Linked DNA regions of Homo sapiens. The protein of the gene in region 2 purifies or fractionates together with the protein of the main gene of each other region. This does not show direct contact. Each region holds a gene or a part of one and is shown on either strand. Other genes may lie near its edges. The genes, in order: IMMT, CLN3, CPT1A and SLC25A10.

Region 1 (7,526 bases), on a different chromosome or scaffold from region 2:
ATATATATGTATTTTAACTCAGTTCTGTTCTTGATCACTGTGACCTTTCATCTTTTTGTTTAAAACTGTAATCTTTTTCCTGCTCACACGTCTTCTACCACTCTTCAAAGCAATTAAAAAATATTCTTTGTTTAGTTGCTTTCTTTTGTCTGTCTTCATCATTAACAGGCTTTTTCCTTTGTTACTCTTTTTCCATGTGTAAATGTCCCCTTCTTGTGTGTTAATATTATTATTATAAGCCTTGCCTGGAATAATGATGGTTAAAATGCAGGTGGATGCAGACAAGACTTCTTTCTTTTGTTCGTTCCCAACCATTGTCCATTTTGTGTGAGTTTATGTATGCAGTGGACAGTGCCCCTGTTTGTGTGTTATTCAAACATGTGGCAGTACAAATATTTGTGTCTCTAAGGAGTCAGATGTGAAGTGGGTGGTGATGGTGGTAGTAAATTTCTGTGTGTTTCTCTGTTAACCCAGGAAAGTATAAATACCATGAGTAACATATATTTATAGCACCTACAGAAGCGGCTCAAATTATTTCTGCAGCAGGTGATACCCTGTCGGTCCCAGCCCCTGCAGTTCAGCCTGAGGAATCTTTAAAAACTGATCACCCTGAAATTGGTGAAGGAAAACCCACACCTGCACTTTCAGGTAATTTAATTATTTCTATTTGTTCTTTTATACATGATACACTCATCAGAACTATTTAATGCCTAGGCAACACGTAGACACTAAGTATACATTTACACTAGGTTTAGGTCTTCAGAGTTTCTTAGGAAATTTTTAAAATTTAAATGTCCGAATGTATCTTTTTAAACAAGAAGATTAAAGCCTGATTCCTATTTCTTCATTTTGGAATCATTAAGAGTAATGATATGGTTTTAGAATTCTTAACACAAAAATGCCCTGCATTGATATAACTGGCCAGTACAAACGATGCTTTTTTTATATCCCTGTTAGCTATTAAAATTCTATGCTGAAATTTGATTTCCTCTTATTTACTTTTGCTGCAAGAAGAAGCATCCTCATCTTCTATAAGGGAGCGACCACCTGAAGAAGTTGCAGCTCGCCTTGCACAACAGGAAAAACAAGAACAAGTTAAAATTGAGTGTATGTAAACCAGACAGCTTCTTAAGGATTTTGGGTCATCTCCCAGTTGCTCTCTTCTTAAACTATCAGCACAAGTTTGTCATCTATCACCTAGTTGTGGTTTCTTTTGTTGCTGCGGTTGTTTTTTAGTGGCATTGCTTTATTCATCACCTTCATTTCATCTAAACTTCTTTTACCTAAGTGACAAAGGCTATTCTTAGTGTATAGTTGGTGAAAACTCCAAATAATACTAAAGATTATGTTAGCGCTAAAGATTCTTTATACTCTGGGAAACAGAAATTGATTATTTATGTTTTAGCAGCTTGCCTAAAAGTCCTTTATTTATTTTTTTGAGATAGGCTCTTTTCTGTCACCCAGACTGGAGTGCGGTGGCACTGTCATGGCTCACTGCAGCCTCAACCTCCCAGGCCAAAGCCATCCTCCCACCTCAGCCTCCTCTGTAGCTGGGACTACAGGCGTGTACCACCATACCCAGCTAATTTTTTAAAAATTTTTTATAGACACAGGCATCTCACTATGTTGCCTAGACTGGTCTCGTACTCCTGGGCTCAAGTGATCCTCCCACCTTGAACTCCCAAAGTGCTGGGATTACAGGCCTGAGCCCTTGTACCCAGCCCTAAGAGTCTTTTATTAATAATTGTTAATTTATACTTGTAAATAATTGTTTATTAATAATTGTAAATTTATTTGTTGGAGTCAGAATGGCTTACACTGCCTTATCATCTAGCCTCTGGACTCTCTAGTAGTGCTTTTATCTGACACTGGTGGGGCATGGAATGTTCTACACATCGCTGGTTTCCAGCTAACAAGCATATTCCTTTTTAAGTTTCAGTTTTATGGTTTTTTTGTTTGTTTGTTTTTAAGAGATGGGCTCTTACTGTGTTGGTCAGGGTAGTGTTGGACTCTTGGCCTCAAGAAATCCTCCCACCTTGGCCTCCCAAAGTGCTGGGATTACAGGCATGAGCTACCACACCTGGCCAAGTTTTTTTTATCATTATTATTATTTTTGCTGTCCTCGGTAGGTCAGGATTCTTAAATTTTTTGATGGTTTAAAAAAGATAATAGATATTTATCAATTTATTTTTCTGTCTTAAAGCACATGTAACATAATTTTTTGTACTGTGCTATAATATGTTGATGTCTCTGGAGGTCGTGGGATGTAGCTTTTTGCTGGACAGAGAGTTCAGTACTCATGGCAGCTGTTTATAGTTTTTTGATCTCCTTGTCATTTGTTTTGCTCCTGTTTCCCTTGTAATGTGCTGGTTCTGCCCTACCCTGAGGAACCAAGTTTCTTAGAATAGCATAGGTGTCATTCTGTGCCTATGGCATTAGTTTTCCTACTTGGATTTGGATTTTCGTTTTTGATTTTTTGTATTCTTCTGATTGTGTTACAAATATTTGTGAATATTTAATAAATGACTTCTAACTAAGTGAAATATTTCATTTTTCCTACTTCTTTTTTCTTTTAGTCCTGTTTTTTCTTCACTTTTCACTTTTCTCTCTTTATCACTTGGGCACCTTGAAATTAAGTTATAAACGTAAGATGGAGATGTCTGCTGTTCCAGCTGTTCTTTTCCTTGCCTGGTTCCTCTCATCTTTCATTTTGGGCAAAGTGAAAATTTTCAGAATTTTATCTGTCACCTCTTAATTCCCCCTCAAACTTGACTTTAAAAATATACACATATGCATTTGCATGTGAAATATTTATCAAGGATCAAAGGACAGTGACTAAACCTCTGAAGAGGGCTGGAAGCAGCAGGTGCCTCCCAGCAGCCCACTTTCTGTGGCCTCCATAAAGTGGTTCACAACTGCCTGTACTTGATGTCCACTGTTCACTCACGCATGTCATGGGATCCAAATACCACGGTTTCTCTCCCTTGCCCCTTTCTCTTGTTGTATCCCCTGCTCTCATTTCACTTCTATCACTTCTGTCAATTTCTTTTTATTTTCTCCTTATTAGTTTTCCTCTTATCTTTCTTGCAGAGGTACCATTTGTAGTTCCTCAGATTCCATTTGTTCATTGCTAGTTTATGCTTCTTTTCCTCAAAATCATCTTTTTTTCTCGCTTGTCAAATACATTTTTTATTTTTTGTCATGTGATATCATTTATTTAATTAATTTGTTTTGAGACAGAGTCTCACTCTGTCACCTAGGCTGGAGTGCAGTGGTGCAATATCGGCTCACTACAACCTCCAACTCCCAGGTTCAAGCGATTTTCCTGCCTCAGCCTCCTGAGTAGCTGGGACTATAGGCACCCACCACCATGTCTGGATAATTTTTGTATTTTTAGTAGAGACGGGGTTTCACAATGTTGGCCAGCCTGGTCTCGAACTCCTGACCTCAGGTGATACACCTGCCTCGGCCTCCCAAAGTGCTGGGATTACAGGCGTGAGCCACTGCGCCGGCCCATTTATTATTAAATTAGTATTCTTACTAGCCGCCTTTCTTCAAATGACCATTTATTTTTGCATTTTAGTAAATTATCTAAAATTGTCATTTGCTTTACTTTTTGGTATTCCCGAAACAGCATATAGAAATGTGATCTTAATAGATGGAAGCCTCTTGAACATTGGTGTCTGCTATTTCTTGAGTCCTTTTATGGAAGAACACTGTCCATTTCAAGTTGCCTTTGGGTTTTGTTTTGTATTTTTTGACCTGTTTTCTTATTTGTCTTTTTCTTTCTCTTGTCTGTTTTCTTGTATCTTGTCAACATAAGTGTTTTGCTATGAGTATTCCTTCTTGCCAAGGGGATGAAATGGGCACCTCTTTTTCCCTGTTACGATTGTTGTTTAAAATGAAGAAAGCTGATGGATTTGTTGAGTTTATAGCCACAATATGTAAAAGGGGCTATAGTGTCCTAAACCTTGTTTCTCCCATTTGAAATACATTACCCTTCTTTAAATAATTTTGAAAAAAAAAAACACTTTTTATTTTGAAAAAGTTTAGATATACAGAAAAGAAAAAGTAGGCTGGGCACGGTGGCTCACGCCTGTAATCCCAGCACTTTGAGAGGCTGAGGTGGATGGATCACGAGGTCAGGAGATCGAGACCATCCTGGCTAACACGGTGAAACCCTGTCTGCTAAAAATACAAAATATTAGCTGAGCGTGGTGGCAGGCACCTGTAGTCCCAGCTACTCAGGAGGCTGAGGCAGGAGAATCGCCTGAACCCAGGAGGCGGAGGTTGCAGTGAACTGAGACGGTGCCACTGCACTCTAGCCTGGGCGATAGAGTGGGACTCCGTCTCCAAAAAAAAAAAAAAAAACAAAAAACAAAAAACCGGGCACGGTGGCTCACGCCTGTAATCCCAGCACTTTGGGAGTCCAGGGTGGGCGGATCATGGGGTCAGTAGATGGAGACTATCCTGGCTAACATGGTGAAACCCCGTCTCTACTAAGAAATACAAAAAAATTAGCTGGGCGTGGTGGTATGCACCTGTAGTCCCAGCTACTCGGGAGGCTGAGGTAGGAGAATGGCGTGAACCCGGGAGGCGGAGCTTGCAGTGAGCCGAGATCGCGCCACTGCACTCCAGCCTGGGCGACAGAGCGAGACTCTGTCTCAAAAAAAAAAAAAAAAAGAAGTGTAATAAAGCTTCATAGATTTATCATCCAGACTAAATTATCAGTATTTTACCATGTTTTCTTTTTTTTTTTTGAGAGAGTCTCGCTCTGTCGCCCAGGCTAGAGTGCAGTGGCATGATCTCGGCTCACTGCAAGCTCCACCTCCCAGGTTCAAGCGATTCTCCTGCCTCAGCCTCCCAGGTAGCTGGAACTACAGGCACCCGCCACCATGCCTGGCTAATTTTTGTATTTTTAGTAGAGACGGGGTTTCACCACATTGGTCAGGTTGGTCTCAAACTCCTGACCTTGTGATACGCCCGCCTCGGCCTCCCAAAGTGCTGGGATTACAGGCATGAGCCACTGCGCCCGGCCTTTACCATACTTTTAAGTGAAACTTTGATTCCCTAAATTTGAGTCTCATGTATTTTGTTCCTTTTTAAATTTTTTGGGAAATGCAATGGAAGACTAGATAGGAGAACAGCAAAAGTTTAAAGTCATTTATGGGGGTAGGATTTGTTTTTTAACTGTTCTTTTTTTTTTTTAAGCTCTAGCCAAGAGCTTAGAAGATGCTCTGAGGCAAACTGCAAGTGTCACTCTGCAGGCTATTGCAGCTCAGAATGCTGCGGTCCAGGCTGTCAATGCACACTCCAACATATTGAAAGCCGCCATGGACAATTCTGAGGTGAGCCCAATGAATGATTAGAAGTGTTCTGGCTGTCATGACTTGGAGGACAAAAAGAAAAATCGAGGGTGGAGAGAAGTGTAATATTTAACAGACTGCTTTCTTCCGTATGATATCGGCTTTCTCTCACTAGGGGAAGATAGTCTGGAATAATTAATCTTTTTTTGTTATTGTTTTGAGACGGAGTCTTGCTCTGTCGCCCGGGCTGGAGTCCAGTGGTGCGATCTCGGCTCATTGCAACCTCCACCTCCCAGGTTCAAGCGATTCTCCTGCCTCAGCCTCCCGAGTAGCTGGGATTACAGGCTCCCGCCACCATACCCGGCTAATTTTTGTACTTTTAGTAGAGACAGGGTTTGCCATTTTGGCCAGGCTGGACTGGAACTCTTGACCTCAAGTGATTTGCCTGCCTCGGCCTCCCAAAATGTTGGGATTACAGGCGTGAGCCACTGTGCTTGGCCTTAGAGTAATTATGTTTAAAAAACAAACTGAAAAAAGCCTTTAAGTTTTTTAGAATGAATTTTATACATTGTGCTTTACTATATCTTACAACACCGATGCAGCGCAAGAATTAGTTCAGATTTGCTTTCATATTTTAATAGCACTTAAATATTTTTGTTGTTTGCTTTAAAATTGCTATTTCCATAGGTAAACTTTTTAAGATACTTCTCAAACTTCACATGCAGTTTTAAGAAATAATACAGAGAGCTCTCATGTTCCCTGAAACACCTGCTATTTTAAATGTTTATGATTATTTATGCGAAACACTTCAAAGAATGAAGTAATAACATTGATTTTTCAAAATTTAATACTGGGACTTAATACATTATTTTATAATTACATTAAGTTATTCAGTATGTATAAATGTATCTCTATTCCAAGTCATTTAAGGAGTAAATTAAAGTAAAATGCATAAATTATTAATCTTAAGGATCAGGATCATACATGGTCAGTAAAGTTACTTTGCCATCATAATTGTAGTTTTAAAAAAAATTTTACACACACTTTACATTGTTTCAGTCGTATGTACTTATATTACAAAAGAGTTTAATTAGACCTCTGATGTTAGTAGCAAGAAACTACAACCTTTGAAATTTTAAGGAAAATTCCATTTTATTCAAAGTCCAAGAAAAATACTTAAATATCAGAGTTCAGTCAGCAAAGTGGAAACCACCCAGGAAATTTAATTTGCTGGTTACCGATATGGGAAGGCTAGAAGTTGCGTGATGTAAGGGTGTTGGGTTCAAACCCAAGTAGACCAGTATCCCTCAGAAGGACACGGATTGGAAGCTTTAAATGCCATGTTACTACTTGGGTATAAGGGTACACAAGGTGGTATTTCATCTTCCTAACGCACATAATGTGTAGCACATGGTGATTAGACAGTGTAAAATCTATTGCAGTCAAGATTTTACAATCTAATGGTAGCAGTTAACAGATGAGAGTATTAGCTAATGTACAAAATAATTGGAAAAATGTATGAACACATTTTGGAATGTTAAGAATGAATTCCAGCTTTTGTTTTTTCTAGTACAAGAAGCTACAGGTGCACATGTAATTTCTAATATATACTGAATAACTTTCACAAAGCAGTGTTTGTGAAGAGTTGGATTTGGTAATACTAGGATTTAGTTTGGTTGTAGGGGAATCTGTGTCTGTTACAGGGTAGGTTTTCCTTGGACTTCTGTAAGCAGGAGTACCTTCAACAAGGGTGATAAATTTTGGCCCCCAGATATGTCATTGACATTTACATGCTTTGTAATTCTATTTGGGTCAGTTCATGTGGCCCAACTCAGCATCCATTCCTTTTTTTTTTTTTTTGAGACAGAGTCTTGCTCTGTCACCAGGCTGTAGTGCAGTGGCGTGATCTCTGCTCACTGCAACCTCTGCCTCCCAGGTTCAAGCAATTCTCCTGCCTTAGCCTCTCAAGTAGCTGAAATTACAGGTGCCCACCACCACACCTGGCTAATTTTTGTATTTTTCGTACAGAGAGGGTTTCACTATGTTGGCCAGGCTGGTCTCGAACTCATGACCTCAAGTGATCTACCTGCCTCCACCTCCCAAAAGTGCTGGGATTATAGGCGTAAGCCACCATGCCTGGCCCCAAATCAGTATACATTCTTGATGTATTTTATTTTCAAGATGACTAAAGCGGTCCAGGCGTGGTGGCTCATACCTGTA
Region 2 (7,009 bases):
GGAGTGAAGTGAGGGGCAGGGGTTTGGTACCTGCAGCAGGGCCAGGGCCCAGGTGAAACGGATGCGACAGCAGCGGAGAGAAGAGCGGGAGGCAAAGACGCCAGCCTGGTACAGCATCTGGTACCTGAGGTTAGGGTTGGGGGGAGGAGAGGAGGCTCCTCCAGGGACCATCCCGCTCCCCCCGGTGCCTACTGGGCAGGGCAGCTGCATCACCACGGCGCCCTCCCAGCCCACTGCCCTCGCTCCTCTTACCAGCGGTATTGCTGAGCGTGACTCAGGGAAGTGTTCCAGAAAAAGAGGAGTTCAAACTGCAACAAATACCAGACAGGGGAGATGGACGGGGCTGTGTGGGTCCCAGCCCCAATCGCCACCTCCACACCCCTCCTAGCACCCCTCACTTACAAGTCCCTGGTTAATGAAATACTCGGCAAAGTAAACTACGACCAAGGGAACAATGTACCACAGCAGACCCTGGAAAAGGCAGAAGATATAAGCGGGGGGCCTGGAGGTGAGCAAGCCCCACAGGGACATACCCCAGCCATCATCCGAACCTTGAACACTGTCCACCTTTCCCGAAGGGAGAGGCTGGAGCTGGAGCCTGCAGGGGAACAGAGAGAGAAGGGCAGATGAAGTTTTCACACTGAAGACTCGGCAAAGAGGCACCGGTATGACAGAATTAACCAGACCACGCAACAGTGGGAACTCACTTCCATGCCACTGGATTGGACACTTAAAAATGGTTAAAATGGCTGGGCGCAGTGGCTCATGCTTGTAATCCCAGCACCTTGGGAGACTGAGGTGGGCGGATCACCTGAGGTCAGGAGTTCAAGACCACCCTGGCCAACATGGAGAAACCCCATCTCTACTAAAAATACAAAAATTAGCCATGTGTGGTGGCAGGTGTCTGTAGTCCCAGCTACTCGGGTGGCTGAGGCAGGAGAATCACTTGAACCCAGGAGGCAGAGGTTGTAGTGAGCTGAGATTGCGCCATTGCACTCCAGCCTGGGCAACAAGAGCGAAACTCCACCTCAAAAAAATAAAGTAAGATAAAAAATAATAAAATGGTAAACTTCAAGTAATATACATACTTTATCATGATGAAAATAAAAGCTAACCAGGTGAGACCTCTTCACGTCTCTTTGATTTTTAATTTTTTTTATTTTTTGAGACAGAGTCTCACTCAGTTGCCCAGGCTGCAGTGCAGTGGTGCAATCTCAGCTCACTGCAGCCTCTGCCTCCTGGGTTCAAGTGATTCTCGTGCCTCAGCTTCCCAAGTAGCTGGGACTACAGGCATGCACCACCACACCTGGCTAATTTTTTTATTTTTAGTAGAGACGGGGTTTTACCATGTTGGCCAGACTGGTCTCAAACTCTTGATCTCAAATGATCCATCTGCCTCAGCCTCCCAAAGTGCTGGGATTACAGGTATGAACCACCACGCCCGGCCAATGTCTCTTGTACAGCTCCACAGATGGCCATTGGCCCACCCTGCCCAGTCTCACTGGCCATTCTCTGGTTCTAGAACATCCCAGCTTATCCCCACCGCAGGGCCTCAGCACTTGTGATTGGAATGCCTGGCACATGGTAAGTACTCAATTAATATCCCTTCTTCTCTCCCTCCCTTCCTTCCTTTCTTTTCTTTTTTTTTTTTTTTTTTTTTTTTTTGCGACAAGGTCTTGCTCTGTTGCCCAGGCTGGACTCAGACTTCTGAGCTCAAGTGGTCCTCCTGCCTCAGCCTCCCAAAGTGCTGGGATATTACAGGCGTGAGCCACTGTGCTCGTCCTCAACAAGTATTTCTCAAATAGACAAAGGCTTTTCCCATAACCAGTACACTCACTCTCTTTCCCCTCTTAACTTTGCCTATTGCAGAGAGGAAAAGGCCAAACCCAGAGAGAAAGAAAGTGACCTCTCTGAGGGTCTGTGTCTCCTACCTGGCTTCGACTCCGGGGCCTCGGTTCTTATGAGGGGCTGCCGGGCTGCGCTCTCTGCTTCTTCTTCCCCTCCAGGGTCCTGGGCCTCAGGAGATGTGAGCAACAAGAAATAGCTAGGAGTAGGATGAAGGCAGGGTCAGAAAACCCTACTGGCTGGGAAGGTCCCCAGGGACCATCTAGGCCACTTTTCCCAGGGAACACCTCTACCTTTGAACACTTTCAAAGATGGGTAGCTCACTGCCTCTAAGGCTCCTACGCTGTGCGGGAGAGCTCCAATTGTGGACAAAGGCTTCTTTCTTTGGACCTGAATTTATCTCCTTATTCCTATTCATGGGCCTTCATTTTGTTTTGATTTTTTTCAGAGACAGGGTCTTTCTCCAGCATCCAGGCTGGAATGCAGTGGTGCAATCATAGCTCACTGCAGCCGCGACCTCCCAGGCTCAAGCAATCCTCCCGCCTCAGCCTCCCAAGTAGCGGGGACTACAGGCACGTGCCACCAAGCCCGCCTCATATTTTCCATTTTTTGTATAAATGGAGTCTCGCTATGTTGCCCAGGCTGGTCTCAAATTTCTAGCCTCTAGTGGTCCTCCAGCCTCAGCCTCCTAAAGCACTGGGATTACAGCTGTGAGCCACTGTGCTCAGCAGGCCCTTGTTCGGACTGCTGGCTCATACCTAGCGAGTCAGTTCTGTTTTCTGGCCATTATTATTCTAATGGTCGCTCTAGCTCCCATTAATTATACGTTCACTCTGTGCTAGGCCAGAACTTCCTCGATTTTAGTCACTTAGGTTCTGGCTTCATGTTATTTGCCATATCCATATTCCTCCTGTATATATATATTTTTACTTAATATTTTTCTTTAAATGGACTCACTTTTTCTACTTAGACTTGTCCTAAGCACTAATCTTGTGAAGGGCCAGGTGTGTCTGGCTAGTTCAAAGTGTGTGTTTTTTTTTTTTTTAGACGGAGTCTCGCTCTGTTGCCCAGCCTGGAGTGCAGTGGCACAATCACGGCTCACTGCAACCTCTGCCTCCTGGGTTCAAGCGATTCTTCTCCTCAGCCTCCCAAGTAGCTGGGACTACAGGCAAGCGCCACCAAGCCTGGCTAATTTTTGTATTTTTAGTAGAGACGGGGTTTCACCATATTGGCCAGGCTGGTCTCAAACTCCTGACCTCGTGGTGCGCCCGCCTCGGCCTCCCAAAGTGCTGGGATTACAGATGTGAGCCACCATGCCCGGCCAAAGTGTTTTGTAATATGCATGAAAATACACAGAACTAATCAGGCCGGGCGCGGTGGCTCACGCCTGTATTCCTAGCATTATGGGAGGCCAAGGCAGGTGGATCACTTGAGGTCAGGAGTTTGAGACCAGCCTGGCCAATACAGTGAAACCCCGTCTCTACTAAAAATATAAAAAATTAGCCAGGCATGGTGGCATGGGCCTGTAGTCCCAGCTACTCGGGAGGCTGAGGCAGGAGAATCACTAGAGCCCGGGAGGCCGAGGCTGCAGTGAGCTGAGATCACACCAGTCACTGCACTCCAGCCTGAGTGACACCATGAGACTCCGTCTCAAAAAAAAAAAAAAAAAAAAAAAAAAAAGGGAGTCGCCATGGTTCAGGCCTGTTGCCCTGGCACTCAGGCAGGCAAGGCTACACATTCGAGGCCAACCTGGTCAACACTGATTAAAAAAAAAAAAAAAAAAAAAAGGAACTAATCAAATAAAGTCCACCCTCATCCTACTTCTAATCACCTTGGGAACCACACTGTGCTGAATGCATTACCCTCATCACCTCCAAGGAAAGCAAGAACAACTGCCATTTGAGATATGGGGAAACTGAGGGTTCAGAGAGGTGGAGTAACTTGTTCAACGCTACAAAGCTAAAAAGTGGCAGCTCCAGGACTCACACCTGGGGCTATCAGAGTCCAGATTCCGCCTCCCTTCACAGCAAGGTAGGGACTTGAAGATTGCAATCATAATCAAGTTTTCTTTTCTTTCTTTTTTTTTTTTTCTTCCTGAGACAGAGTCTAACTCTGTCGCCCGGGCTGGAGTGCAATGGCACGATCTCGGCTCACTGCCACCACTGCCTCCGGGGTTCAAGCGATTCTCCTGCCTTAGCCTCCTGAGTAGTTGGGACTACAGGCACCCGCCACCACACCTGGCTAATTGTTGTATTTTTAGTAGAGACGGGGTTTCACCATGTTGGCCAGGCTGGTTTCCTGACCTTAGGCGATCTGCCCTCCTTGGCCTCCCAAAGTGCTGGGATTACAGGCGTGAGCCACCACACCCAGCCATGGCCAAGTTTTCTCTCCTTGGACCCCTCTCCCTCCCGGCTCAGGGCAGCTCACCTGGCCAGCAGCAGGGCAGGGATACCCAGCATGGACAGCAGGGTCTGCTGAGGGGAGAGGCCGGCCTGGGTGAGGCCCAGGTAGGACAGGGCCCCCAGCAGCCCAGCTCCCCCAGTCCCTGAGGACCACCAGGAGATCACGGCCCTGGGAAGGAGAACACAGGAACATTCAGGAGGACCTAGGCTGACCATGGGACAGCCTCTCCCCACACTCCCTGCTCCACCTGCTTACCTGGGGTAGAAGGCAGTGAGGGAGAGGAAGGTGACCTCCCCAAGGCCTGATGAGATGCTAGCGAAGACCACACCTGGGGGGAGGACAAGCACTGGGATGGTCACACCACACCTTGCCACACTGCCCAGGCCTCTAATGTGTCTGGCCATGGCCTCCTCAGTATCAGCTCATAGAGGCTCCAATAGATCCCATGCATAGGCCAGGTTCCAGGTCTGAAGCAGAGCCCCACTCCCCTGCGTGTCCCTTCATGGAGAGTGGCACCTCCATCCACCCAGTTATCAGACCAGGGGCAGACATGCACCCTTGATGTCTCTGCCCCTTCATCAGTCTTTTTCTTTTCTTTTCTTTTTGGAGACGGAGTCTCGCCCTGTCACCCAGGCTGGAGTACAGTGGCGTGATCTCGGCTCACTGCAACCTCTGCCTCCCAGGTTCAAGAGATTCTCCTGCCTCAGCCTCCCGAGTAGCTGGGATTACAGGCTCCTGCCACCACACCCAGCTAATTTTTGTATTTTTGGTAGAGACGGGGTTTCTCCATGTTGGCCAGGCTGGTTTCGAACTCCTGACCTCAGGTGATCTGCCTGCCTTGGCTTTCCAAAGTGCTGGGATTATAGGCATGAGTCACTGTGCCTGGTCCATCACAGAGTCTTGACTTTGTTCACCTCAATCTCCATCTAATTCATCCATTTTCTCCCATCTCCTCCACTGCCTACCCCTCCAAATTGTCCCAGTCTCCCATCGCCTACTGCTGATAGCCCTAGCAGGCTTCTAAGGGTGACAGAATGAATCCCTTTCCTCTGGGAGGCTGGGGAGACTCTTCCCACAAATGCTCTGATGTGGTTCCTCGGGGCTCCCCATCTGACACAGAACCACACACTCACCACACAGGCTGGTCCCCACAGAATGAGAAAAGGCAACCAGGACGAAGCTTCCAGCAGCACAAATCCCACTGACGAGAACCCGGGGGCTGAGGGGGTGAGAAGGGAAGGGAGGGGGAAGGTCGGTCTCTACTCTCAGCATCTCAGCCATCCCAGCCTCCCCTTTCTCAGCTCCTGCCCACCCTGCCTCCCACTACCCTCACCCAGACCTGTAGGGCAGCAGGTGAAGGCCAAGAGGAGCCAACAATTTGATGACGAGTGTGGGGAGGATGTCCGCCAGGAGCACAGCCTGGGACAGGAGAATAGAGTGAGACCGCAGAGCTTCCAGGGGACAACCCTCCCAACCACGTGGCCAAGGAGAGGCAGGAGCTGGCCAAACAGGCCTGCTACAAACACAGGCTCTGGAGTCAGGCACGCCTGGGTTCAAGTCTCAGCTCTCCCACTCCTTAGTTGTGTGTCAAGAGTTTATACTCTCTGAGCTTCAGTTTCCTCATCTGGAAAATGGGAATATCATAGCACCTAGCTCACAGGACTGCTGTGTGGCTTAAATGAGCTAATATATGGTGCAGACAGAAAGGACTCAGAAACTATATATATATATATTTTGAGAGTGAGTCTCATTCTGCCACCCAGGCTGGAGTGTAGTGGCTCGATCTTGGCTCACTACAACCTCCACCTCCTGGGTTCAAGTGATTCTCCTGCCTCAGCCTCCTGAGTAGCTGGGATTACAGGCGTGCACCACCATGCCTGGCTAATTTTTGTATTTTTAGTACAGATGGGGTTTCACCATGTTGGCCAGGCTGGTCTTGAACTCCTGGTCTCAAGTGATCCATCCGCCTCAGCCTCAGAAATTATATTAAGGTCTCAATTATTTTATATATATATATTTTTTAATTTTTTTCTTTAAGATGGGGGTCTCACTATACTGCCCAGGCTGGTCTCAAACTCCTAGGCTCAAGTGATCCTCCCACCTTGGTCTCCCAAAGTGCTGGGATTACAAGTGTGAGCCAGTGCGCCCAGCCCAGGTCTCAACTGTTTTAATCATGACAGTCCCAGCTGGGTAGTGAAGGGCTGGGAGTGGGGTCTATAGACCCAGGGGCCCTGGGTCAGGCAAGGACCAGGTGAGATGAGTACGCACAGCCGTAGAGACAGAGTTGCAGTCAAATCGTGATGAGCTGTTGTGGGGGATCGGCGTTGGGCCTGGGTCCACCTAATGGGAGAAAAGCATGTCTTTCACCCTGGAGGCAGAGGGATAGACACACAGAGCCTGGCTCCCGTCCCAGCTCTGCCTTCACTTGAAGGATGGCTTTGGGTCAGCAGTGACTGACTTCTCAGGACCTCAGCGTCTCTGCATGCACAATGAAGAGGGGGTTTCCATATGAGTCTCACACTACTAGACCACAGGCCACAGATGGCCCTGTAAATGGACTTTGTTTAGATAACACATTCAAGAGCTTTCTTTTTTTTGAGATGGTGTCTCACTCTGTTGCCCAAGCTAGAGTGCAGTGGTGTGATCTTGGCTCATTGCAACTTCCACCTCCTGGCTTCAAGCAATTCTCCTGCCTCAGCCTCCTGAATAGCTCAGACTACAGGTGTGTGCCACCACACCCAGGTAGTTTTTGTATTTTTAG
Region 3 (7,526 bases), on a different chromosome or scaffold from region 2:
ATAAAGATTCCTTTTTGTGCTTTTAATAATGAAGTTACAGCACATTCCTTTTTTTTTTTTTTGAGACGAAGTTTTGCTCCATCACCCAGGCTGGAGTGCAATGACATGATCTCGGCTCACAGCAACCTCTGCCTCCTGGGTTCAAGTGATTCTCCTGCCTCAGCCTTCCCAGGAGCTGGAATTACAGGCACGCACCACCACGCCTGGCTAATTTTGTATTTTTAGTAGAGATGGGTTTTTACCATGTTGACCAGGCTGGTCTCGAACTCCTGACCCCAAGCGATCCGTCTGCCTTGGCCTCCTAAAGTGCTGGGATTACAGGCATGAGCCACTGTGCCCGACCCAGAACATTCTTTTTACCAAACCCTTTGGCATATGCTAGACAATGTGACCCATATATATTTTTATATTGATGTATTTGACTAGCATTAGATCATTTAATTCCCACTAGCACCCTAGGAAATGGGTACTAGGGCTATCTCCATGTACTAATGAGAAAACCAGGGCTTAGATGTCAAGAAACTTGCCCAGTGTCACAGCCAGCAAATAGCAGGGCTGGAAATCAAACCCAGGCCCAGGCCAGGTGCGGTGGCTCACGCCTCTAATCCCAGCACTTTGGCAGGCCAAGGCGGACAGATCACCTGAGCTCAAGAGTTCGAGACCAGCCTGACCAATATGGTGAAACCCTGTCTCTACTAAAAATACAAAAAATTAGCTGGGCTTGGTGGCATGCACCCGTAGTCCCAGATACTAGGGAAACTGAGACAGGAGAATTTCTTGAACCTGGCAGGTGGAGGTTGCAGTGAGCCAAGATTGCACCACTGCACTCCAGCCTGGGTGACAGAGCGAGACTCTGTCTCAAAAACAAACAAACAAACAAACAAACAAACAAAAACCCAGGTCCAACTCCAAAACTTATACTCTTAACTCCCAAAGTAAAGTGGTAGGTACTACACAAAAAGTTCTACTTAGGATTCCTAAAGTTACAACACAGATATAAAATTAGGTCACTGTTGTAACCAAAATGATGAGATTGCAGCCAGCAATAAAACTCCAGTAAGTATAAACACCATCAGTGCCAACTGTAAAATTATTCACATGCTGCAGTCTTCCCACTAGCATTGCACAGTGCCCATGCACACAGGAGCAGGCTCTGCTTTCTATTCAAACCTAGCTAACAGCTGCCCATCTCCTCCAGCGGTAAACAACTATGTTGGAAATCCTCTGAGAAAATGTTACCCATGGGAAGCGACAGCTTAGCTCAGCAGGAATACCAGGCAGGGCCTCTAGGAACAGAGAAAGTGTGAGGCTGGATGACATGGGCCTCATCCCTGGAAAAACTGGAGAAGGCGCTGTAGGCAGGGTCAGAAGCAGTGTCTCTGGCGAAGGGCAGGGCAGTTATCTCATCATCTACAACACATTCTTGGATGCCCGGGTGACCAATGCCTGGGAAGATTCTGCTTCGCTAGAAAGCTAGTGCCAGCCTCCGGGACTGGCTCCAGCTCGGGGAAACCACCTTCACAACATGCATGATGTCCAAGGTGGCAAAAATCTGGCCTGGCCTCCTCACTGCTGCCCAAAGAACTTCAAGGGAAGTACCAGGAAGGCTCTGGAAGGACAGCAGCAGCCCAGGGGGTTCCCTAGAACTAGCACACATGTGCAGTAAAGTTCATGGCTCTTCTGAACTGAGATGCAGGCAAAAATTAGCAATAATGGGAAGGAAGAAAAGCAGCAGCTCCTCTTCTCCAGGCAAGTGTGGGTGTGCGCTCTCTGCACTGTATGAGCCACATCGTTATTCAATTGCAGATATGCACATCTGTAATGGTGCCCTTGTACTTTTCCAGTAAATGTGTATACACACAAACAGAAGTTGTTTCCCAAACTTGGCTGGGCGTGTTGGCTCACGCCTGTAATCCCAGCACTTTGGGAGGCCAAGGTGGGCGGATCACCTGAGGCCAGGAGTTCAAAACCAGCCTGGCCAACATGGTGAAACCCCATCTCTACTAAAAATACAAAACATTAGCTGGGTGTGGTGGTGGGCACCTGTAGCAGGAGAATTGCTTGAACCTGGTTGGTGGAGGTTGCAGTGAGCCAAGGTCCCACCACCGCACTCCAGCCTGGGCAACAAGAGCGAAACTCCATCTCAAAAAAGAAAAAAAAAAAGAAATTGTTTCCCAAACCTGATGGAAGCACCTTAGAAGTGAGAATGTAAGACTCACCTTATGTTTTTCGGAGGGTTTCATGTACAAGAAAGGTGAAGGATTTTCATTATTATTTTTTTTTTATAAGACAGGGTCTTGTTCTGTTGCCGAGCGTGACCTTGAACTCCTGGCTCAAGAGATCATCTTGCCTCAGCCTAAGCTGGGACTACAGGTGTGCTCCACTACACCCAGCCTGGAGCTTTCATTATGAAAGGTTGCGTCTTGAATTCATGACTGATCATTCAATATTCACATTATTTAAATTGGCCACACAGTGGATTTCCTGTACTGAAGTTTATCATAATGGACTATTCACATTTATGGGGTCAATATAATGGGTCGTCAGGTTATAAAAGGAATTCTGGGCTGGGCACGGTGGCTCATGCCTATAATCCCAGCACTTTGGGAGGCTGAGGCGTGTGGATCACCTGAGGTCAGGAGTTCAAGACCAGCCTGGCCAACGTGGCAAAACCTCATCTCTAGTAAAAATACAAAAATTAGCCAGGTGTGGTGGTGGGCACTTGTAATCCAGCTATTCGGGAGGCTGAGGCAGGAGAATCGCTTGAACCCGGGAGGCAGAGGTTGCAGTGAGCCGAGATCATGCCACTGCACCCCAGCCTGGGTGACAGAGGGAGACTTCGTCTCAAAAAATAAAAATAATAAAATAAAAGGAATTCTGGACTGGGTATGGTGGCTCATGCCTGTAATCCCAATACTTTGGCAGGCGAAGGCAGGAAGTTCGCTTGAGCCCAGGTATTTGAGACCAATCTGGGCAATGTAGCAAGACCCCATCTCTACAAAAAATACAAAAATTAGCCAAGGTGTGGGTAGTGCATGCCTGTGGTCCCAGCTACTTGCGAGTATCACTCGAGCCCAGGAGTTTGAGGTTATAGTGAGCTATGATCACGCCACTGCACTCTAGCCTGGATGACAGAGCGAGACCCTGTCTTACCAAGTACTGTAAAAATTAAGCCAATTCTGGGTGGATCACTTGAGGTCAGGAGTTTGAGACCAGCCTGGCCAACATGATGAAACCCTGTCTCTACTAACAAACAAAAACTACCTGGGCATGGTGGTGCATGCCTGTAATCTCAGCTACTCGGGAGGCTGAGGCAGGAGAATTGCTTGAACTGGGGAGGCGGAGGTTGCAGTGAGCCATGATTGCGCCACTGCACTCCAGCCCGGGCGATAGGGCGAGACTCCATCTCAAAAAAAAAAAAATTAAGCCAATTCAAATTTAGACCTTATAGTGCACCACGTCAATAAGTAATGGTTAGATAAATACAGACAAATATGATCTTAGAAAAAAAATTTGGAAAAGCCACAAAGATTCACAATTTTATAAAGAAGATAGCCAACGTATTGACAGACCCAGTTATCTGACCTAGCTATTCAGAAGCCCACCAGAAGTTTAACAGCTGCTACTTCTTTCCCACTGTGCCTGCCCTGCCTCTAGCCAGCATCGGCACTCGGGCAGGAGCTCAGACTGCAAGGAGGAGACCTGCACCTGCCCAAAGGACATCCTAAACCTCCTCTTCGTACCAGTATATTGTTCCCACAAATGTCCCTAAGACAACAGGAGCGGTGTCCCCTGTATCTCCCATGCATATTCTTCACCTTTGCACAGAATATAACAACTTGAACTTCTAATTCAAACTGAACTTGAACTGAACTTCTAATGTGGGGACTGCAAAATACATTGGTGTCCCTAAATGCCGCCTGCAGCCAGGACATTGTTTGCTAGAGCCTGTATTTACTTTACACACTCAAAACTCTCTTCACATCTGACCTCTGATTGGATCCTCACAAAACTCGTGTGACATGGAATGACAGGTTCAGACCCACCACCTTACAGATGAGGAAATGGAAACCCAGAAACCCTAGAGGCGGATTCAGTGCCACACCCAGTCTGCATGGGGTAGGGAGTGGGGGCCTCCAAAACCCAGGCCCTCTGGCTGCCCAGTGGTCTGGGAAGCAGCCTGGGAAAGGGAAAGAAAACACACAGATCTGGGTTCAAATCCCAGCTCTACCAATTACTCAGACCTGTGACCTTGAGCAAGTATTTGCCTCACATAAAGTATGCAGGATGCCCTTACCTCCTCCGGCAAACTGCAGGAGGACGTGGCAGCCAGCTCTGACACCTGTTAGGTCTTTACTGCAGGAACACGTTCTTTGTCCCTTTCCAACTGTAGCCCTGTGGTGCCAATGCAAACCCTCTAGGAATGTGGATTTCTCTTCCTACCTGTTGCACCCCCACCCCATGCCAAATCTCAATGCCAGCATTTGATACCTTCTGACTTCGATGTATACCTTTTAGCAATCTGTGGTTGTATTTTGTGCAAACTGTACTGGACATCACATTGAGCCACTGTGTGTATTTGAAGAAGTATAAAGAAACCAGGAAGCCCGGCGTGGTGGCTCATGCCTGGAATCCCAACGCTTTGCAAGGCCAAGGTGAAAGGGTCACTTAAGGCCAGGAGTTCAAGACCAGCCTGGGCAACATAGTGAGGCCTGTCTCTACAAAAAAATATAAAAAATTAGCTAGGTGTGGTGGCATATGCCTGTGGTCCTAGCTATGTAAGAGGCTGAAGAAGGAGGATCCCTTGAGCCCAAATGGGAGATTACGTTGAGCTATGATGGCACCACGGCACTGCACTCCAGCTTGGGCACCAAGGCAAGATCCTGCCTCGGAAAAAAAAACTCCTGGCGCAGTGGCTCATGCCTGTAATCCCCGCACTTTGGGAGGGTGAGTCAGGCAGATCACCTGAGGTCAGGAATTCAAGACCAGCCTGGCCAACATGGTGAAACTCATCTCTACTAAAAATACAAAAATTAGGCAGGCATGGTGGCATGCCCCTGTAGTCCCAGCTGCTTGGGAGGCTGAGGCAGGAGAATCACTTGAACCCAGAAGGCAGAGGCTGCAGTGAGCCGAGATCATACCGCTACACTCCAGCCTGGGCAACAGAGTGAGATTTCCTCAAAAGAAAGAAAAGAAAAGAAAATAAGAAAAGAAAAGAGAGAAAGAAAGAAAAATGAAACAAAATCTCCAAGAAAAGAAAGGGAAGGAAGGAAGGAAGGAAGGAAGGAATGAAGGAAATAAAGAAAAAGGAAAGCAAACCTCCATGTATTAAATCTTTTTCAGGGCACCAGAGGAGATGACAGTTGGCAAATCAGGGATAAATGCTTTTATAAATGAAGAATCATTTTATAAAAAGTCAAATTTCAGTGATAGCATATGACAGTTTTGTCTCTTCTCTTCTCTTTTCTTTTCTTTTTTGAGACGGAGTCTTGCTCTGTCAACCAGGCTGGAGTGCAGTGGTGTGATCTCAGCTCACTGCAACCTCCAACTCCTGGGTTCAAGCGATTCCCCTGCCTCAGCCTCCCGAGTAGCTGGGATTACAGGCGTGCATCACCATGCCCAGCTACCTTTTTGTATTTTAGTAAAGACGAGGTTTCACTGTGTTGGCCAGGCTGGTCTCGATCTCCTGACCTCATGTTCCGCCCATCGTGGCCTCCAGAAGTGCTGGGATTACAGGCGTGAGCCACTGCGCTTAGCTGACAGTTTCTCCAGGGCATCAGAACACAGCGTTAGGAAAGCTGTCTGTGGTGACTCAATGTGACCTGATGACCACAGGACCCCCTGAGTGAGCCAGGGCTGGTGGGCGAAGCAGACATCACTGCAGAGAGCTAGCAGCTTGCTGTGGGGAGAGAATAGGGACGTGGTCTCGGGTCCAGATGTCCTCAGCCACAGTAGCAGCATGAAGGAAGGTGCATTGAGGGGGGACCCAAATGCTCCTCTGCTCCCTGCCTCCCTCACAGGAACTTCCCATAACACAAACAGGAATAACAGTGCCCCTCGTCAGGCGGTTATGGCAATCCAGAGTGGAAAAAGGGTGCTTCGGGCAGGGCGAGGGGGCTTATGCCTGTAATCCCAGTGCTTTGGGAGGCTGAGGTGGGAGGATCGCTTGAGGCCAAGAGTGCACTATGATTGCGCCACGGCACTCCAGCCTGGACAACAGAGCAAGACCTTGTCACTAAAGAAAAAAAAAGAAAGGATGTCTCAAATGTTCTGTCATTCCTTCAACACATATCTGAATGTCTGCTCTGGGCCACTGAAATAATGAGGAAGGTGAATGTAAGGGTGAGTTAGGAAGAAGTAGCAGCACTTAGCCCCGGCTGCATGTGGGGGCTTAGGGAACAGGAAGAATGCAGGCTGGCTCTCCGGCTCCTGGGCTGGGTACCACAAACCACCCGCATCAGGAGTATGAAGCCTTCCTTTCTTAACATAAAGGACTTGGTGTCCAATGCCTAACCTATATCCCTCAGGAAGCAGAGCGGTACCCACCCTACTGCCCAACCCTCCAAGGTGACGGTGACCCTCCTGCACACCCTGGAGAGGGCACGCCTCACTCAGCAGCATGATTTCTTTCACTGTTAACTTCCAAAGACGTTCCTGGACCGAAGAACAATCCTCACCAAAAAAAAGGCAAAGGCAGACACTTCTGAGGCCGTCAAGATACCCAAATAGGGTAGCTGGCCTCAGCCCAGGGCCTGCTGGAGATCCAACCTTCACCTGACATTTGGATGGGGTAAAAGTTGAAATTTACACAAGGTAACAAATATTTGAAGCTAGCAAGCAGAAAAAAGTCCTTACTTGTGTTAAGCAATCAATTTGTTTAAAAAACATATCCTGTACATGTCGTCAAAGAAACTGGTAATAGTGGTGGCATCTGGAGAGGGGAACCAAGTGAGAAGGACTCTACTCTGTATCTGCACCTTTTTAAAAAAAAAAAAAAAAAAACAGAGACAGGGTCTGGCTGTCACCGAGGCTGGAGCGCAGTGGTGCAATCATAGCTCACTGCAGTCTCCACCTCCTGGGCTGAAGCCATCCTCCCACCTCAGCCTCCTGAGTAGCTGGGACCACAGATGCACTCCACCAGGCCCTACTAATTGTTTGTAGAGACAGGGGTCTGGCTCTGTTGCCCAGGTTGGTCTCGAATTCCTGGCCTCAAAGCAATCCTCCCACCTTGGCCTCCCAAAGCATTGAGATTACAGGCGTGAGCCACGGGGCCGGGCCCATCTGTGCCTCTTTAACTTTGCATCGTATGCTTATATCGCTTATTTGTAAAAACAAAACAAAACAAAAGTCTTCACAAGAAAAGCTCAAGACTGGCAGAAGACAAGTGAGGCCTCTTTAAAGTGTGTTGGAGAGATTCTCGAGAGATTCTCTCCAACACACTTTAAACAAACAATCTCGAACAGCCATTTTAATTCTTAAAGCACCAATTCTTCCGGAATTCAAGTTCAGGCTTCCACCAGCAACAG
Region 4 (6,755 bases), on a different chromosome or scaffold from region 2:
GGATTACAAGTATGAGAGATCACACCCGGCCCACCATTACATTCTTTTTTTGAAATGGGGTCTCGCTCTGTCACCCAGGCTGGAGTGCAGTGGTGCGATCATAGCTCCCTGCAGCCTCGAACTTGCAGGCTTAAAGGATCCCACCGCAGCCTTCCAAGTAGCTGGGACTACAGGCTGTTTGCGCCACTGCACTCCAGCCTGAGTGACACAGTAAGACCCTGTCTTAAAAAAAAAAAAAAGGGCATCTTTGGGAGGCCAAAATGGGCAGATCCCCTGAGCTCAGAAGTTTGGGACCAGCCTGGGTAACATTGTGAGACCCCAACTCTACAAAAACATACAAAAATTAGCCAGGTATGATGGTGCACGCCCATAGCACCAGCTACTTGGAAGGCTGAGGTAGAAGACTGGTTTGAGCCCAGGAGGCCCAGGTTAGTAAGCCAAGATCGTGCCACTGCACTCCAGTCTGAATGACAGAGCCAGATCCTGTGTCTGAGACCCTCAACCCCAGCCTCACCGTCTTGTTCCCTTCCCCCCACACCGGTTTTGGTTCCTCCTACTTCCCCAATTCCTTCATCCAAATGCACAGCGAGGACCCTGGCTCCTCCCCAAAAGGCCTTGGCCCGGTCCTCCTTAGGGGGTGCAGGGGGTCCTGCTGGTCTGGACAGCAAGGCAGCCAGCGGGCAGGCAGCGCAGGCAGGAACAGATGTGGCAGCTCCCGGCATTTATTGATTGCAGCCCCCACAGAGCACACTGCCCTTCCCAGGTGGGGTGAAGCCCAGCGACCAGGGAGGCAGAGGATGCAGCATCCGCCCCGTCGGACTCCTTGTCGGGGAGAAGGCCCTAAGGAGGAACCGCGGCCCGCCTGGGCCATTCCCCCAGGGAGCCAAGCGGGGGGGCCCAGGTGCCCGAGGGACGCAGGCACAATCCCTGAAGACAGAGACCGCCTGCTGGTGAGTGGAGAGGCTTTGGCAAAACTAACTGTTAAAGCCACTGCAGGGCAGGCAGCGGTGCGCGGGACCTCGGTGGCCCTCGACCCTCACCCACAATGGCTCCAGAACCACCCTGGGCCACTCCCTCCCAGGCACTCGCTTGTGGTCTGCGTTGCTTGTTCATCCCACCCAGCTGCGGGGTCTCGCGGGGAGTTGCAGCTGCCCGAGGACATGGAAGGTCTGGTTGCTCTCAGCAGACACGAAGTGCAGAGCTAGCACTTGGGTGAGCAACAGCCAGGCTGCACCCACACTCTGCCACCCAAGTCCTCGATGGAAAGTGCTGGAAGATGCTGCTTTGGGCATCGGGGGCAGGAGGCAGGGATAATACCCCTCCCCTGGCCCAGGAGAGGGGAGAAATCAGCCTCTGGTAGCCCCTGTTCCCCTGAGGAGCTGCCAGCGGGAGAGGGGCAAGGCCACGCAGTGCCCAGCCGGGAGAGCCTGGTAGCCAGAGCGGGGGTGGTGCAGCTACAGCTGAGAGGGGACGAGGCCAGGAGGAGCTCAGCCAGCAGGTGGGGGGACAGCAGGGGCCTGCTGCGGAGGACGGGTGGCCACGGCCAGGGAGGTCGTGGCCCCAGGAGCAGGTGCTGGGCTTGGGACTCTTTGGAAGAACCTAGCGTGTCTGGCCTGGCAGCCCAGCCATTCCCACGGCTGGTCAGGATGGCACTTTGATGCCAAAGTTTTTGCGTAGCTGTTCCAGAAACACAAAAGTGAGCACGGTGTGGGGGATGAGGCGGATGCCAGCTGGGACGAGGCCCTGGAGGGAGACAGGGAAAATGAGAGACACAGAGCCCGAAGGGGCCCGCTCCCCATTGCCCAAGCCGCCACTGCCGCCACCACTGCACCTTGTAAAAGGCCAGAGGCCCGAGCTTCGCTGTCTCCACGGCGCAGTGGAAAACGCCCTGCAGAAAACGCAGTGAAACAATCAAAAAGGCTGCTTCTCACCCAAAAGGCAACGAAAATCCCCTCCCAGGCACCAGCCAGGCACGGTGGCCTGGGCATTCTCAATGTGGGGTGTGGGTGTGGGTGTGGGTGTGAGCGGCGGCTGCTGGCTGGTAACAGGTGACCACAGGTCTGCAGGCACCAGCCAGGTCAACGGCCACCCTGCCTGCTCATGCGGTACAACCAGGGCCCGAGGGTGCAGCCCGGGGTCCAGTGGGCAGAGGGGGCTGTGAACAGAACCATGAGAATCAGGGATGCAGCACGGCAGCGTCAGGGAGAAGAAAAGGGACAGAGCTATGGGCTCTGCAAACGTGGAAGCCCCATGGAGTTGGCGGGGGCCCAAGACAGGAGACCCAGAGCACCTATGAGGCACAGACTGCCATGAACGGCACCACCTCTGTTAATCTGTGAAAGAAATGTTTTTGGCCGGGCACAGTGACTCACACCTGTAATCCCAGCACTTTGGGAGGCTGAGGCGGCAGATCACTTCAGGCCAGGAGTTCAAGACCAGCCTGGCGAACATGGCGAAACCTTGTCTCTACTAAAAATACAAAAATTAGCCAGGAGTGGTGGCACGTGCCTGTAATCCCAGCACTTTGGGAGGCCGAGGCAAGCGGATCACCTGAGGTCAGGAGTTCAAGACCAGCCTGGCCGACATGGTGAAACCCTGTCTCTACTAAAAATATGAAAAATTAGCCGGGCATGGTGGCGGGCGCCTGTAATCCCAGCTACTTGGGAGGCTGAGGCAGGAGAATCGCTTGATCCCAGGAGGTGGAGGTTGCAATGAGGGGAAAAAAAAAAGAAAGAAAAGAAATGTGTTTTTTTTTGTTTTTTGTTTTTTTAAGACAGAGTCTCGCTCTGTCATCCAGGCTGGAGTGCAGTGGTGCAATCTCGGCTCACTGCAACCTCCGCCTCCTGAATTCAAGCAATTCTCCTGCCTCAGCCTCCTGAGTAGCTGGGATTACAGGCGTGCGCCACCAGGCCCAGCTAATTTTTTTGCATTTTTAGTAGAGACGGGGTTTCACCATGTTGGTCAGGCTGGTCTCCAACTCCTGACTTGTGATCTGCCCGCCTTGGCCTCCCAAAGTGTTGGGATTACAGGCGTGAGCCACCGTGCCTGGCCGAAAAGAAATGTTTTAAGACAGTCTCACTCTGTCACCCAGGCTGGAATGCAGTGGTGCAATCTCGGCTCACTGTGGCCTGGACATCCTGGGCTCAAGGGATTATCCCACCTCAGCCTCCTGTGTAGCTGGAACTACAGGCATGCACCACCAAGCCTGACCAATTTTGTTTTGTTTTGTTTTTTTGAGACAGTTTCACTCTTGTGGCCCAGGCTGGGGTGCAATGGTGTGATCTCGGCTCACTGCAACCTCCGCCTCCCAGGTTCAAGCGATTCTCCTGCCTCAGCCTCCCGAGTAGCTGGGATTACAGGCGCACGCCACCACACCCAGCCAATTTTTTGTATTTTTAGTAGAGAGGGGGTTTCACCATGTTGGCCAGGCTGGTCTTGAACTCCTGACCTCAGGTGATCTGCTTGCCTCGACCTCCCAAAGTGCTGGGATGATAGGCATGAGCCACCGCACCTGGCCCCTAATTTTTGTAATTTTGGTAGAGACAGGGTTTCAGTATGTTGCCCAGGCTGGTCTTGAACTCCTAGACTCAAGCAGTCTGCCTGCCTCAGGCTCCCAAAGTGCTGGGGTTACAGGCATGAGCCACTGCGCCGGGCCAAGAAGTCTTCTCTAAAAACAAAAACAAGGCAAAGGCATTCAAAGGCACAACCCTCTCCCAAGGCAAGTGCTGTGCAGAGACAGGCAACTAGAAGGGAGGGACACCCTTCCCCGGGTCCCCAGTGCGAGTGTCCACCCCCCGGAGAGGTGAGGGGACTCGCTGGGCTGTGCAGCCCAACTGCACAGGCAGGGCCCCACTCACCTGATACTCCCCCTTGGAGTTCATCAGGCGAGTCTTCAGCACATCCAGGGGCTGGCACAGGAACGTGGCACATCCACCCTGAGGAGGGGGCTCGTCACCAGCGGCCTGTCAGGTACGCCAGGCACCATCGCCGAATCCCACCCACGTGCCAGAACCTCCACCTGACTCCTAGGGCGGGCCAGGAACATGCTGGCGGGGGCACCAGGCTGACCCATGAGCTCCCAAAGCCCTGGCACCCCACTTATGAGCCCCAGGGGGCACTGCCAGATGCCCAAGGCCCCCGCCTCCCCCAGCCCTCGCCCCATCCTGGGTGCCCTCAGCGCCCAAGGCCGGCCCAGGGACGCCCACCCTAGCCATGCCGGCCACTTACTGCAATAAAGCTGGCGACAAAGTGAGTGAAGATGTTGTCAGAGAGGTACCCGGTGCTAAGGACCAGCTGCTTGGCCTGGTCGTAGCAGGACAGCTGCAGGGGCACAAGGGCGGTCAGGGCTGTAGGGGGGACCCCAGCTTGGGGAAAGCACACAGGGCCCCAGGCGACACCACCTGGCAATGGCCAAGCACCTGCTCCGTCTGTCCGTCCGTGAGGCCCAGACAGGGGAGGCACCTGCCCGAGGTCCTTCACAGGCTGCAGCCCTGACCCACCCGTGCCCCCCACCCTGCCCCACAAGGTCACAGCTGGTGGCTCCCCAGGAGGGTTTTGGCGCCCAGTGCCTTGTTCTATGGCCCCTCTGAAGATGGAGGTCAGTGGTCACAGGCACTGCCCACACCCACCCCACGCAGGAGGCCTACCTGGCCCACAGTGACTAAGGCCCCTCGGCTGGATGCCATGGTTGCACCCGAGAACAGTCTCCTGAGACCCTCTGCACAAGGAAGGGGTGAGGCAAGGGGTGAGGCAAGGGGTGAGGCCAGGCACCTGGCCCAAATCCCTCAGCGCCCAGTCTTCTACAGCGCTGCCCACCCTGCCTGCCCCCCAGAACCCTGCCTGTGCACAGCACCTGCCCCTCACCTTCACGAGCTACGCGGTACAGGCCATCCAGCGCATGGGCGTAGCTGCCGGGGACACAGAATGACCACATGAGACTCCCCCTGACCACCGGCTCCCACAGAGGGTCCTCCCAGGCCCCGAGGCAGGCCGGGGGTTCTCGAGGAAGCAGAGGCCTCATGGGCCTGAAGATCTCTCCCTGGGAACATGAAGCTGGTCCTGACGTCCCACAGCCACCTCGCCCGCCCCGCCCGGCCCTCAGGGAGGAGGTTCCATCGTTTCCAACAGAGTCCCTGGCTGGGCACCGCTCCTAGCATGCAGGCCTCCTGCCCGCCAGCCCCCGGGGTCCTGGGGGAACACAGTCTGTGTGCACAGCTAGAAGCCAGAACTCCCCAGGGGTCCTTGGAAGGGGCGGGGGAAGTGGCTCACACTGCAGTTGGAGCGGACCCCGGGCCCTGGAAAGACCCCAGGCCGTGGCAGGAGGGCACAGCTGCCCTGAGCTGGGCAGGGAGGCAGCGCCTCCTTCGGGCGTTTCTGTTGCATGCGCTCTCTCCATGCCTGGGGCGTTCGCCTCCGCACTCACCACCCTGGGGTGCAAACAGGCCCAGCCCCCAATCCAACAAGGCTCTCCCCACAGGAAGAACCCAAAGGTCCTGGGGGCGCAGAGTGACACCCCCGAGTCCAGAACAGCCGTCAGGACCCTCCATGGACCGTGCAGGCACCTCGGCCTGCTGGAGCCTCAGCTGGGTCACGGCAGAGCAGCCAGGGGTCCGCTCCCGCCCGAGCCTCCTGCACCTCAACCACCCCGAGAAGGCCGCCCATGACTCACTTGCGCCGCTGACCCTGGGGCAGCTTCACGTCGTTCTGCATCCTGAAACAGAAGCAGGTGGCGGGAGGGGCGGGCGGGCCGAGGGGCATGGGCAGCCCTGGCAGCACAGGGGAGCTCACGCTGGTCAGCGGGGCCCACAGGACAGGGCACGCCGGGGCTCAGGGACACCCACCCTCCTATGCCCAGGACACCAGGGTCTCAGTGGCTTATTCCAGGCTGACCCCACCCTGCAAGCAGCCCTGGCAGGCCCTGGCATGTCTGGGGACAAGAAAGCCCCTGGCCTTGCAGGTGGGGTGGGGGAACACCAACCTGACGTTGACCAAGTCTGCGGGCGTCCCCACGAAGCCTCCAGCTAAACCTGCGGTGACACAAACCCCAGAGATGAGCCGTGCTGACACACGGCGTCCTCGGCCGACCTGACCACCCCGCGCCCCTCCCCCTCCCGCCCGGCAGCTCACCGCTGACGGAGCCCAGCAACACCTTCTCGTGGAAGGGGAGAGGCCCCTGGCTGCCCTTGGCCACACGGTCCCGCACAGTCTCGTAGATGGCGAACCGAGTCAGGGAGTAGGTCATCTGGGGGAGAAGGGCCTGGCTTGGAGGGACGGGCACGCCCCACACCCCTCAGCCTCGCCACCCGGCCCAGCCAGGGATCCCCCTCAGCCCGAGGGGCCACAGGGACCCTGAGGGGCCTTCCCAAGGCCACTGTGCCAGCATGCGGCTGAGCCAGTTCACAAATCTAGAGCTGCACCCTGCTTTCTCACTCCCTGGGCCTCAGCTTCCCCACCAGTAAGTGGCGGTCTCAGGCCCAGCCCTGCAAACTGGGTGGGTGCCCATGGGAGGCGCACCCTGGGGTCACCAGCTCTCGGCCTGGTGGGTCCTTCCTTGCACAAAGTCTTGAAAAGGGGACGGAAGTAGCTTGGATGCCACTGCAGGACTCAGCCCCAGTCTGGGAGCCCAAGGCTGGCACACACCACGCACCTGTCTGCACAGCGAGGCGCTCAGGCCGCTGTAGAGTGCCAGGATGCCGTCGGTACGCACCACCCGCAGCGCCATGCCCGTCATGCGCAGCTTCACCTCCTGCTGCGTC

The links.
Region 1: the proteins of CLN3 (region 2) and IMMT purify together in Homo sapiens (affinity purification with mass spectrometry; 2 studies listed by BioGRID and IntAct, with this or other methods). This does not show direct contact.
Region 3: the proteins of CLN3 (region 2) and CPT1A purify together in Homo sapiens (affinity purification with mass spectrometry, with the first as the bait; 2 studies listed by BioGRID). This does not show direct contact.
Region 4: the proteins of CLN3 (region 2) and SLC25A10 purify together in Homo sapiens (affinity purification with mass spectrometry; 2 studies listed by BioGRID and IntAct, with this or other methods). This does not show direct contact.

What each region holds. Positions count from the first base shown.
Region 1 is NC_000002.12:86,164,330-86,171,855, reverse strand, and holds part of IMMT (MICOS complex subunit MIC60), read left to right. Parts: intron 1-474; exon of another isoform or gene 475-510; coding exon 511-648; intron 649-1,011; coding exon 1,012-1,107; coding exon of another isoform or gene 1,108-1,115; exon of another isoform or gene 1,116-2,543; intron 2,544-5,211; coding exon 5,212-5,348; intron 5,349-7,526. UniProt on the Homo sapiens protein: Component of the MICOS complex, a large protein complex of the mitochondrial inner membrane that plays crucial roles in the maintenance of crista junctions, inner membrane architecture, and formation of contact sites to the outer membrane.
Region 2 is NC_000016.10:28,482,075-28,489,083, forward strand, and holds part of CLN3 (battenin), read right to left. Parts: intron 6,589-7,009; coding exon 6,517-6,588; intron 5,668-6,516; coding exon 5,588-5,667; intron 5,468-5,587; coding exon 5,382-5,467; intron 4,577-5,381; coding exon 4,504-4,576; intron 4,417-4,503; coding exon 4,273-4,416; intron 2,045-4,272; coding exon 1,932-2,044; intron 599-1,931; coding exon 552-598; intron 472-551; coding exon 403-471; intron 309-402; coding exon 253-308; intron 125-252; coding exon 31-124; intron 1-30.
Region 3 is NC_000011.10:68,831,590-68,839,115, forward strand, and holds part of CPT1A (carnitine O-palmitoyltransferase 1, liver isoform), read right to left. Parts: intron 1-7,526. UniProt on the Homo sapiens protein: Catalyzes the transfer of the acyl group of long-chain fatty acid-CoA conjugates onto carnitine, an essential step for the mitochondrial uptake of long-chain fatty acids and their subsequent beta-oxidation in the mitochondrion.
Region 4 is NC_000017.11:81,714,964-81,721,718, reverse strand, and holds the end of SLC25A10 (mitochondrial dicarboxylate carrier), read right to left. Parts: coding exon 6,647-6,755; intron 6,242-6,646; coding exon 6,127-6,241; intron 6,027-6,126; coding exon 5,978-6,026; intron 5,711-5,977; coding exon 5,669-5,710; intron 4,908-5,668; coding exon 4,864-4,907; intron 4,718-4,863; coding exon 4,647-4,717; intron 4,321-4,646; coding exon 4,228-4,320; intron 3,963-4,227; coding exon of another isoform or gene 3,936-3,962; coding exon 3,858-3,935; intron 3,668-3,857; coding exon of another isoform or gene 3,551-3,667; exon of another isoform or gene 3,375-3,550; intron 1,889-3,374; coding exon 1,832-1,888; intron 1,744-1,831; coding exon 1,642-1,743; coding exon of another isoform or gene 1,202-1,641; 3' UTR 707-1,201; downstream 1-706. UniProt on the Homo sapiens protein: Catalyzes the electroneutral exchange or flux of physiologically important metabolites such as dicarboxylates (malonate, malate, succinate), inorganic sulfur-containing anions, and phosphate, across mitochondrial inner membrane.